Regions from separate parts of the Homo sapiens genome. Here region 2 is linked to region 1. Evidence: fine-mapped expression QTL. Tissue or cell type: sun-exposed skin. Region 1 holds a variant in brackets; the other region holds the start of a gene. All regions are shown on one strand. Distances are from middle to middle. Region 1 overlaps RPRD1B (regulation of nuclear pre-mRNA domain containing 1B). Region 2 holds the start of RPRD1B (regulation of nuclear pre-mRNA domain containing 1B).

What was found.
Region 2: RPRD1B starts here. The variant in region 1 is fine-mapped to the expression of RPRD1B in sun-exposed skin (GTEx, PIP 0.97).

What each region holds. Positions count from the first base shown.
Region 1 is chr20:38,087,603-38,092,974 of GRCh38, reverse strand. It overlaps RPRD1B (regulation of nuclear pre-mRNA domain containing 1B), which reads right to left. Exons shown (of 7, transcript NM_021215.4): 7 at 611-3,249. The coding sequence ends at 3,100. It overlaps LOC124904897 (a long non-coding RNA gene), which reads right to left. Exons shown (of 4, transcript XR_007067578.1): 3 at 4,964-5,112; 4 at 4,555-4,866. Among named protein-coding and RNA genes, the nearest start is that of RPRD1B, 57 kb to the right of the region's middle. RefSeq lists a silencer at 1-68. The variant C/T (reference allele first, on the strand shown) is at 3,318.
Region 2 is chr20:38,031,465-38,036,836 of GRCh38, reverse strand. It overlaps RPRD1B (regulation of nuclear pre-mRNA domain containing 1B), which reads right to left and starts at 3,091. Exons shown (of 7, transcript NM_021215.4): 1 at 2,739-3,091. The coding sequence starts at 2,889. TTI1 (TELO2 interacting protein 1) reads left to right here and starts at 3,381. Exons shown (of 8, transcript NM_001303457.2): 1 at 3,381-3,433. LOC124904898 (a long non-coding RNA gene) reads right to left here and starts at 2,731. Exons shown (of 2, transcript XR_007067579.1): 1 at 1,432-2,731. RefSeq lists enhancers at 2,459-3,054, 3,255-3,524, 3,055-3,650.

The DNA.
Region 1 (5,372 bases):
TCAAAAGGACCTAATTCAAAATCATTTTTGTTATTTTGAGAGCTTTAACCAGCAATACACAGTCAATATGCTTTCACTCCATGTACAAGTGAAAAGGACAAAGCAAAGCCATGACTGTTTTTAAGAGACATACCACTTGGGTTCGCAATTATCTCACATTTTTCGTCTTTTTACTGTTCAGCGTGGCTTTCCGTGTACTGCCAAAATCAAATCGCTCTCAGGAGGCCTACTGGTGTGAACAAAGGCGCTAAAATCAAAGAACTTCCAAGTTTTAATCTGTCAGAGATTGGCTGTGAAGTATGGGGGAAGAGTCATTTAATCTCTCTCCATCAGTTCCCACTTCTGTACAATGAGGGTAAAACTATGGCGGCACCTCTCATGGGTACTGTGTGGACTGCCTAATTAAAGCTAATTAAGCCCCTGGAAAGAACCAGAAAATACTACGTAAATGCTGAGTATTTATGTGCCGCTAACAGACACAAAAACTCCCAAGGGACAAGATTCTGTGCCGACAGCACATTCTCTATTGGTGATTACTAATCACCCACTGCTTACAAAGAAAGGCACTGTTTTCAGTAACAGGGTAGTTTAAAAAAAAAATCACACAATGTTGTTCAACAACACCATCTTTATTCAAAAATATATATCTATGAGACATTTCAGAATATACTGCTGCCGCCAACGACAGCCTATACTTCTAAATAGTCCTAAATTAATATACAAATTTAAGCTTTGAAAATATTCTTTAAGAAAAACAAACAAACAAAAACAAGGGAAGATTGAAGACTTTCTGAGGAATATGACCTAAAGGAAAGGTCCTTTGAGGCCTACAGATGCCCTAAGAAAGAAAAAACACAAAAACAAAAACCACCCACCCCACCCACCAAGTCACCTCATACATACAAGGAGGAAAGTTCATTTAAATTAAACAAATGAAGTAAGCACACTTTGGGAGGATGTGGACAGCAGAATTAAGATTTAAAAAACGAAAGCATTTCATCAAAACAAAAAACTAACTTCCTCACAGGAAGTCCACTAGTAACAGGTATTAAGAGGCCAACACATTCATTTACATAATTGCTACAGTTTCATTTCTTAACTTTTGCTGTAATAATTATGCACCAATTGCTGGTCAGAGACTCAGTTGGATAAAACAGAGCAGTGGGCTAAATCCATTCTGCTATATTTTCATCTAGTTGATCAGAGCAAATATCTACGATCCTCTTTTGGCTGGATTGTGGCTGCTCAGATCGCACTTCCTTGGTGAAAGCATAGAGTGTCCCAGATGGGCCTGCTCCAAAACACGCTCATCTAGAAAGCAGCACACCACGGGGGGTGGGGGAGAGGTTGGGGAGTGCAGCAGCAGCAAAGATTACAATTTATCTTGCAATTTTAGTGATGTCACCTATGGCCTCTGGAAGAAAAACCTTATAGACTCATTAATTTAACAGTGACAGAACGACAGGCAGTGTCCATAAGCAAACAACACACAGTCTGAATTCAAATCTGAATAACAGCTCAAACACTACTAGGTTCTACACAGAGTTAAACTGAGTATCTGCTATGACTTTTCATTGTTCTCACTTCATGACAAGCAGGAGAGCTTCTGGAAGGGAAGCCCGTTATGCTTTATAAACATAGGTTATGTTTCAATGTGTTTAACATGTAAAATTACATGTAATTTTTGGTGATCCTGGAAGTAGCAACACAAATTAATGGAGATTACAAAGCCCCCTCCACTGAATTCCTTTTTATATAGTTTGGGTTTCAGCCTCTGGTCTATAACTCCTATTACACTACTGGGGCAAATCGCTTTCTGCCCTTTCCAATGTCAAAAATAAGCCTGCCAAATTAGAATGATTTACAATTGGCAGGCTGAACCTTTACTATAAGCAAGATAAAAATTGTCTCTAACTACATTATATAGTCATAATGTCAGCTGACATGATAATAGAATTAAAACCCCCAATTAATATCCCCAACTCCCCGCTTCCCCTGCCCGAGACGAGCTATTCAATAACATCTGACGCAAGTACTCCCCGTCGTGTGGGGACAAGGACCTGTGCAGTGGCGTGACATGACAGACGGACCTGCTCAGCGTCCTATTTGCAGTGATGTTCGAGTTTAGCCACCGTACTGTGGACATGCACCCAGACAGCGGATTAAACGTTAGTGTGTACCCTACTCCCAGAAGAAAGGGTCCAAGAAACACCCACACAGATCCCAAATGCAGCACACCTGTGTGTGGGGCCTTCATCTTTTGGAGCCCACCAATGCCTGCCATCCCTAACAACTGCCTTCGCACCCACCAGGGATCAAGGCATTCTGTTTTTCGGAACGTGCTCCGACAGTGGAGAAGTGCAGCATGGGAAGGTTGTATCTAGGAACTTGAAGCAAATAAATTCCTTTTAATTCATGCTTGTGATCCCTGTTATTCTGTCTCTGAACTGTGCCTTTATGCTCCAGATTAGCTTTGAATCTTATTGCTAGATTCTCCAATCTGTTTACAAAATAAATGCACCTAATCTTCGTGCATCACTAGGAGAAGCAATGGAAAGGGAGGATCAGAGATTTGGCAAACTCTTTATGGCAACGCTACGACAGCTGTGCCTACAACCTTTTGGGGCAGATGCAGCTGGGAAAGCCAACGTCTCCAGGACAAGTGCCTTAGTGGAAGCCCACACCGAACTTGAACAAGCCCAGCCCAGAAAGGAGAAGCTGCTTTCATGATAAAATGCTGTCATGAGGGACAAGATTCTTTCGAAAGCTTCCAGAAGTACACATGATTTTCATAACTTCTTAGGTATAAGGAGACAGTTAAGAATGGAAAACCAACAGGGGGGCATGAAAATATGAAGTGGGAGAAAAAGTCTGTAGTCTTTGCAAATATGAATATAAACCAGATTCCAGTCGCCACTGTTCTGAACTGTGCTCAAGATGAGAGGCTGAAGAGGAGAATCAGAGTCTGAGGTTCTTTCTTGAGGCTGGGGGGCTGGGCGGAAGAAGGGATAGAACCAGGGGCTAGAAGGTTATTTCCAACCATGACTTGCCCTCTTCTTTCTGCTGGTACAAACAGAAATCTGGGACATGACACCCATCCTAGTCAGTTGAAAACAGGTCCCCAGCAGAGGGCAGGGGGGCTAAGCCCCCTGTGACGTTGGGCAGCAGTGAGAGGTCTGGCAAGCTCTGAATATGGGATTTCAGTTCCTTGCGGACCTGGGTTACTCGTGCAAGCTTCTGTTTGTATTCCTAAGGAGATAAAGAGAAGACAATACCGTTAAGTCTGTGCGTGCCGAGGGCATGGGTGCTGCTGGAGC[C/T]GGGCAGCTACTCTCGTCCTCGTGTTCTTCCTTGTCCCCACCAGCCTGCCCACCCTGTTCAGCTATATCACAAAGCTAGGGCTTCAAATGCTCAAAAGGCAAAACTTTCTATCAAAAAAGGAACGCAGAGTGCCATATTGGCAACAGTGAATTAAATGGTATTCAATTTAGGGCTTGAGATTTGGAAGTAGAAAGAAATAACACTTGGTATTTGCATTCTCTTTTTGTTGGTTCTCAAAAGTTTCAAAATGCTTTATAAAATAAAACAGACACCTGAGCCTCACAATTTCTTTGCGGACTCCACCTAGATATGGCAAGAAAAAAAACACTGAAGTTATACTTCCTATGTTAAAGCTTGGAGATTAACCTAAATTTATCATGTTTTGCAAACAAGCACTATAGAAGCTCAAAATACCCCACTGCTACTCCCTGTGACCAGGGCCTCCTCATTCCATAACTGAGTCACTGCAGTAAGTCCCTGGTTAGGCCTCCTGACCCCTAGGGCTCCTAAAATGCCACCAGACTTCTCTCCCAAAAGCCCAGCTTTCATGAAACCACTCCCTTGAGAAAGTGAGGCACGGCACCCCACTAGCTCCATGATCTGGTCCTTCAGAGCAGAGTTCAAGGTCTTACAAAATCAGCCCCTGCCTCACAACCTCCTAACCCTCTTTGTCTGTGTGGACCATTTTTTCAGGATTCCCCGCAAGCCTGGAGGGGGTCTCTCTCTTCTCCTAGCCCTAGCAAAGCCTGGCCTCCACTCCTCTGCTCCTTGGACTATCTGGACTCCACCTCTCTAGGAAAATCCTTGCTCTGCATCCAGGAGACGACTCCGCATCTCCTCCTGCTCCAGAGCTCTCCCTCACACAGGGTGTGTACCTGAGCCCCTAGCAAGCTGCTCTATGCTCTCTCCATACATGTGAGACTTCTATGTTCCTCTAGAATATGAATCCCCTAATGATAGGAATGGGGCATATTTTTTTTCTTTCCTCAGCTCCCGGAAAAAGGTACTCTTGATAAATCTGCCAAGATATATAGAAAACAACCCTAGGCCATGTGAAGTCTGGGGCTGTTGGCCCCCTTGGGGCTTAGTTTTTGTCCTCTCAGTGTCTCTGCAAGGGTAAGTAGGTCCCTGACGCTGGGCCCCTGCTGACTTAGAAAGCCCTTCCTGCAGGAATGTAACAAGAAGCCCTGGGCTGAGATGCAGAGACCTAGGCTTGGTCCTGGTTCTGCCTCTAACCTGCTGTGTGACCGTGGATGTGTTCCCTTCTTCCATATCTGAAAGTGAGGGAACTGGACCATAACACTTCTTTTCAAGTTCTAAATTCCTTGATACCAGATCCCTGATGCACACCTGAAGAGGCAGAAAGTAGAAGCTAGAGAATGTCTGGGAAGAATAATGAGGCAGGAAAAAGGTCAAATGGAGAATACTTAGTTCAAGTTGTAAAGACAAAAGTCCAAGCAAGGAGTGAGAGGAGGGAACCAGGCATATCCTCTCCCCATTACTGCAGGCAATCAGTCTCCCACCCGCAATGAGAGCTCCTCACACAGTCTACAAAGGAAGAGAAAAGGGTAGAGAGTGAGCTCTCCTAGCAGCCCATTTCTTTTCTTTGTAAACTTACCACAACTAAAATTAAACAATGACTTACGTAAATGATTAGCAATGACTCCCACATTTAACTAGTAAGCTCCTGGAGGCCAGGACCAGACCCATCTGCTTCCCCCAGCATCCACCAGGCTCCGCAGTGTCCAGCAAACAGTAGGCACCCAGCACATGTGCCGAATGAATGAGCCATATCTAAAACATAACATCAGGTAAAAGCATACCACATGAAGTAGCTCCTGAGACTCAGACTTTGGTTAACAGTCACCTTTCACGTTCCTGAAGTTGAAAACTATTTTCAAATTTGAGGATCTGAACCCCCTTTCTCCCACAAGTACTTTTCTTCTTTGGCTGTTTATACTTCAAGGGAAATTAATATAAAGGATGAAGGCAACTAATTCTCTATTTCTGGACACGGATTCATCTAATAAACTTCTCCTGAATGGAAGGTATAA
Region 2 (5,372 bases), 56 kb after region 1:
CTATCTACTTAAAACTTTAGTTCCTTAGTCACACATTTTAAGTGCTCCATAGCCACATATACCAAGCGGCTACCTGTTGGATGGCACAGATAGAAAACATTGCTATTATCACAGAAAATTGTATTAGATAGCGCTGTTTATATCCTTTATGCTGCTATCATAGAAAGTTGTATTGGATAGCGCTGTTTAGATCCTTTACTCAACCACGAAAATTCTATCAGAGACCATGATTTAATTCCTATTTTTAAACTATATAACAGGCACCACGCGATATCCTGTGGTGTTGCAAATAAACAAGAAGGTCTAGTTCCTCTCTCAAAACATAATCTAATGACAAAGATGTAACCAGTTCAAATGAACAGCTAGTAGGAACAAATTAAATGCTAAACTGGTATGATGGGGTGGGAGGCACTCATTAATTCTAATAAATGAAAGCACCACAGTTTGATTGCAGTCAGGTGACCACCTTCACTTATTAAATGCATTGAGGCACTGAGTACATGAAAAAGAACACATTTTGGCATCAGGCAGCCCTGGGCTCATGTCCTAGCTGTATGTCTGTGGACAAGGCACTTAATCCCTCTATACCTTTATCATCTCATCTATAAAATGAGGATAATAATGCTAGCCTACTTGCAACATAAGGCTTTACCACGTAAGATTAGGGATAACGGAGCTTCATACACAAATGTACTCTCTAATTTGCTTTTTTTCAGTAACTCAACTAGGGTGAGGCAAGGAATCAAGAAAGTGTCACAAAAGAAGTGACACTTGGCCAGGCGTGGTGGCTCACACCTGTAATACCAGCACTTTGGGAGGCCGAGGCGGGGGCATCACAAGGTCAGGAGATCAAGACCATCCTGGCTAACACAGTGAAACCCCATCTCTACTAAAAATACAAAAAATTAGCTGGGTGTGGTGGCGGGCCCCTGTAGTTCCAGCTACTCGGGAGGCTGAGGCAGGAGAATGGCATGAACCCGGGAGGTGGAGCTTGCAGTGAGCTGAGATCGCACCACTGCACTTCAGCCTGGGTGACAGAGCGAGACCCCCATCTCAAAAAAAAAAAAACAAAAAAAATGACACCTGAGATGGACTTTAACTGCCTCTTGAGGTCCCACCCAATAGAATTCTGTACAGTGGCAATTCACATTTCAGCACACTCTTCAAATAATTTCTGAATGGCACAGTGGGGTACATGAAGAAGGCCCCATAAACTCCAGGCTCTACCTCTTCCCGGAACTGCCCGAAGGGCTGAGGGGATCCCTATCTCAGTACAGTACGCGATATTTGGGGGCAGTCCCTGCTAAAGGGCTAGAACTGGGTCTCCTGAAAAAAATCATGAAGATTTTGGTGTTTGCCAGCCTGTTGTAGTCTGAGCCTGTTCAGTTCGAAAGCCTTGAAAATACCACTTAGCCACTTCAGTTTCCTCACCTGTAGAGCAGGACATCTGTGGTGTCCCCAACTCACAGATAGTATAGAACACTTGTAAAGCCACTTCGCTATAAAGGCCTACCACATATAGGGTGTCTGGAGCAGCTCTGAGCTTCATTTCTTCAGTCTTCCATTATGAAACTCATCCGGGAGTGTAGGTGTCCATCTTTCCCCACCAGACTGTAAGCAACTTGAAGGTAAAGACCATGCCTCACAGTGAGTAATCAAAAGTCTCATCTCACCATAATCTGCTGAATGCCTACACTGTGCCTCACCCCATGCTAAATGTTCATTTGGATTATCCCGTTTACTCCTCACCACGAGATGAGTCTCAGTTTTTCCTCTTCTGCAAAGTTCCTACTTCATAGGGCTCCGAGAATTTTTTTTAATGGCAATGTATGTAAAGATATCAGTACTGCACTTCGCATGTAATAAAGACATAGTAAATTTCAGTTATCCATTCTGTAGATAAGAAAATTAAGGCACAGACAGGTTAAGTTGCTGGGGTCAGTAAGGCGGCAAAGTCAGGCTTAAATTCTAGGCAGTTGGCAGAGGCAACATGCTGCAAGTGTCCAAGCCAGTGCCTGGCACATAACAGAATGAGTTCAATGAATTGTCTGTCAGAACCTGAGCAGGGCCTGAAATCAATGACAACTGCATGAGAGAGGAGAGGAGAGGAGAGGTAAGGTCTGGGTGGCCCCTTAACCTAAGATGGGAGAGACTACCTACTTCACAGGGCTGTTCTAAGGACTGAGTGCGAGGATACACACAAAGGTCTTAGTATAGTGACTGGTATGAAGTAAAGGCTTTGTAAGGGGTAGCTATCCTTGCCTCCCTCTTACAGATGAGAAAACGGAGACACAGGGAGATGAAGAAACTCTCCCAGTATTATTCAGCTGGCAAATAGCTGAGCCAGGACTCGATCTGCAGAGTCTGACTCCGGAGCCCACTGGCTTTTACTCCAAATACCCAGCACTGGGCCCGACATGCTAGGGCCAGTACGGCAGTGAATGCAGCCGAGATAATAACAGCCACAAATGTCAGGGGGAAACTGAAGGGAAAATGGCTTGATGAACTAGAAGTCTGGACACCTGAGTCCCAGTCCGTGGACCCTCAGGCAAGTACCTTAAACCTTCCCGGGCCTCAGTTTCCTTCTTCGAGAAATGGGGCTAACTTTGTCTCCCATCTCAGAAGCTCGATCAGGCCTGGAAAGCAAGGCTCAATGAAGAGGCTTAGAGGGGCCTAGGTTGTATGTGGGCGAGAGGACAATCCGGGGACCGTCCAGGGGGTGGGGATTTGGTGTTTACCTTTGCGGAGCTCGCGGTGCCACACGGAGACGATGGGTCCCGCGTGCTTGCGGTGGTGGATGAGCCAAAGGGACAGGGTCTGCACGCTCTGCTGAGAGTTGCTCAGCTCCGAGAGCTTCTTCTCCAGCGCCGACTCAGAGAAGGAGGACATGGTGGCGGCAGTGAGGCCCGGCAGGGAGCGGCCTGGGCCGCCCAGTGCGGCGGGAAGAGCGACGGCACGAGGCCGGGGCCTCACCTGACAGGCTGCGGGACTTTTTACCGACTGACAGACTGCCAGGGGTGCGAGAAGGGGGAGGGGATGGGTCTCCGCAGTAACAGCCGCCCGCGCCGCCGCCACAAGATGGCCACCCGACCTCTCACCCTGCCGCGAGAGCGAGGTCAAAGGGCAAGGGCCGGAGCAGAGGGGCACCGAGAGGCGTCGGAGCTCTAGAAAACCGTCCCTTTGGAGGCGGCGGCCGCTCTGAACCTCGCGCAGAGCACTTCGAAGGAGACAGAGCGAGGCAAGGAGAGTAGTTCCCCGGGCCCCCGGAAAGAGCTTTGACCGCTCGAGCCTGCACACCGGCGCAGTGGATCTCGCCGGAACCCTTTTTCCCGCTCCCTCGGAACCTTTCTGGCGCGATACGGCGCGCTACTTAGCGCGTCACTTCCGGCGAGGCAGAGGAGGCGGGAGAGTGAGAGAAAGGCTGGAAGACGAGGTAAGGGAAGAGTGGCGGGAACCAGAGGGAGCCCAGCAGCTGGGACCCTGTAGAGGGGTATCCTGAGGGGACATTGAGTCTGAGAGATCATGATCTGGATATGGGAGGGGGATTTCCTTTCTAATCTGGCGGGCCCCAGGCCGCATCTTTCCTCCATATGTGTTCGGCTCTCTGGCTGTCCCCCAAAACACTTAGTTTTGGTTCTTCCAAGCCACCCACGTGCCCTTTTCACGCCTCCACGCCCTGGCGCTCGTTCTCTGTCCGAAAGTGACATCCCCTTTCTCACCTGGTGAGCTCCTACTCAGCCCCCCGGAGCACCCTTTAATGTCCTGTTTTGACCTTTTAGTCTGTAACAGCGCCGTCATGAAACACACATTTGGGCTCTCGGCTCTTAAGTGGGTTCTCACTCAGGGTATTATTACGTGCTGCTTTTGCCGTCTGCGGGTCCAGTTGACTTTTTCGAACTTAAGTGAGGTGTTAACTTTAGGGAAAAGGTGGAGGGAACTAACTTAGCCTTCCCAATGTGTCTGTTGACCTCATGTTGAGACACACTATTTGAGGCCTGGCGCAACGTCTCTTGCTTGTAATCCCAACCCTTTGGGAGGCCGAGGCGAGAGGATAGCTTGAGGACTGGAGTTCAAGACCAGCCTGGGTAACAGCGAAAATTAGCCAGGCATGGTGACGCTCACCTGCAGTTCCAGCTACGCGAGAGGATACCTTGAGCCCAGGAGTTAGAGGTTACAGTGAGCTATGATCGTGCCACTGCACTCCAGCCTGGGCGATGGAGCGAGACTCTTCTCTGAAACAAAACAAAACACTATCTGAGACTCTAAACCTTGACCCTATTTTTTTTTTAAGTTTTAAATCCCAGGTATCAAAGCAGCAGAGAAATTTTGTTTTTCTTACTGCCACGGGGGTGATGGTAGGGAGTTAAGTTATAGACATAAGAGGGTTTTAAAATTTCCTGATCGTGGTATAACTTCCTAGTTGTGGGCAGACTCTAGTTTAGGAGACGTTCTTCTAGTTGATGCCTGCTTTTGCTCTTATTGCACTGTATTGCAGTTCTTTGCTTACATGCTTTTACCCTTCCTCCAGACTGGAATCATAATCATAGCTAACGCAGTGAGAGGTTACTATGTGCTAGACACAATTCCCACACAGTAACTCATTTAATCCTCACAACAAAGCTGTGAGGTATTATATTATCCCCCTTTGGACAGCGTAGGAAACAGGCTCAGAGAGGTTAAGTGACCTACCCAAGATCACATTACTAAGACTTGAGGGAAGGGGCTGCAACTTAGCCATCTTTTTGGCCCCAGTTCCTGATTTATCAAGTGAGTTAGTGTAAAAGAGGTGAGTAACCTAAAATCATACAGTGAGTATCTAGTCATAACTGAGGGCTTTTGTGTCGAAATCTAGATCATCTTTCCATATTAATAACACTGTCATATACTGAGCACTTTTATACCAAGTCACTGTCTATTAAGCACATTACATACTTTTTAAATTTAATTCTTACATCAGTCTTAGGAGTTGAAATTATTACAATCACTATTTGATAGACGAGAAAATGTAAAGCATGGTTAAGTACCCTATGTACTTGGACATAGTTAGGAAATAGCAGAGCCAGGAGTCAAATTAGGGTTATCTTATGTCTGATCCCAAATTCTTGCCTCCTGAACCAATAGTTTATTCATTCATTCGGAAAATAATTTTTCAGCACCTATGTCCAAAGCACTCTTCTAAGCTAACAGACAAAATCCACGTTCTCAGGAACTTACTTTCTACTGAGAAAGATAGAAAAACAAACATGCAAGTTTAGAATAAGTCAGAAAGTGGTAAGTAACTTCAATAAAAATCAAGGAGATAAGGAGGATAAGGAATGTATATGTGTAGGTGGGTAGTCTTTTACTTATGCTTCTCAGAGAAGGCCTCATTG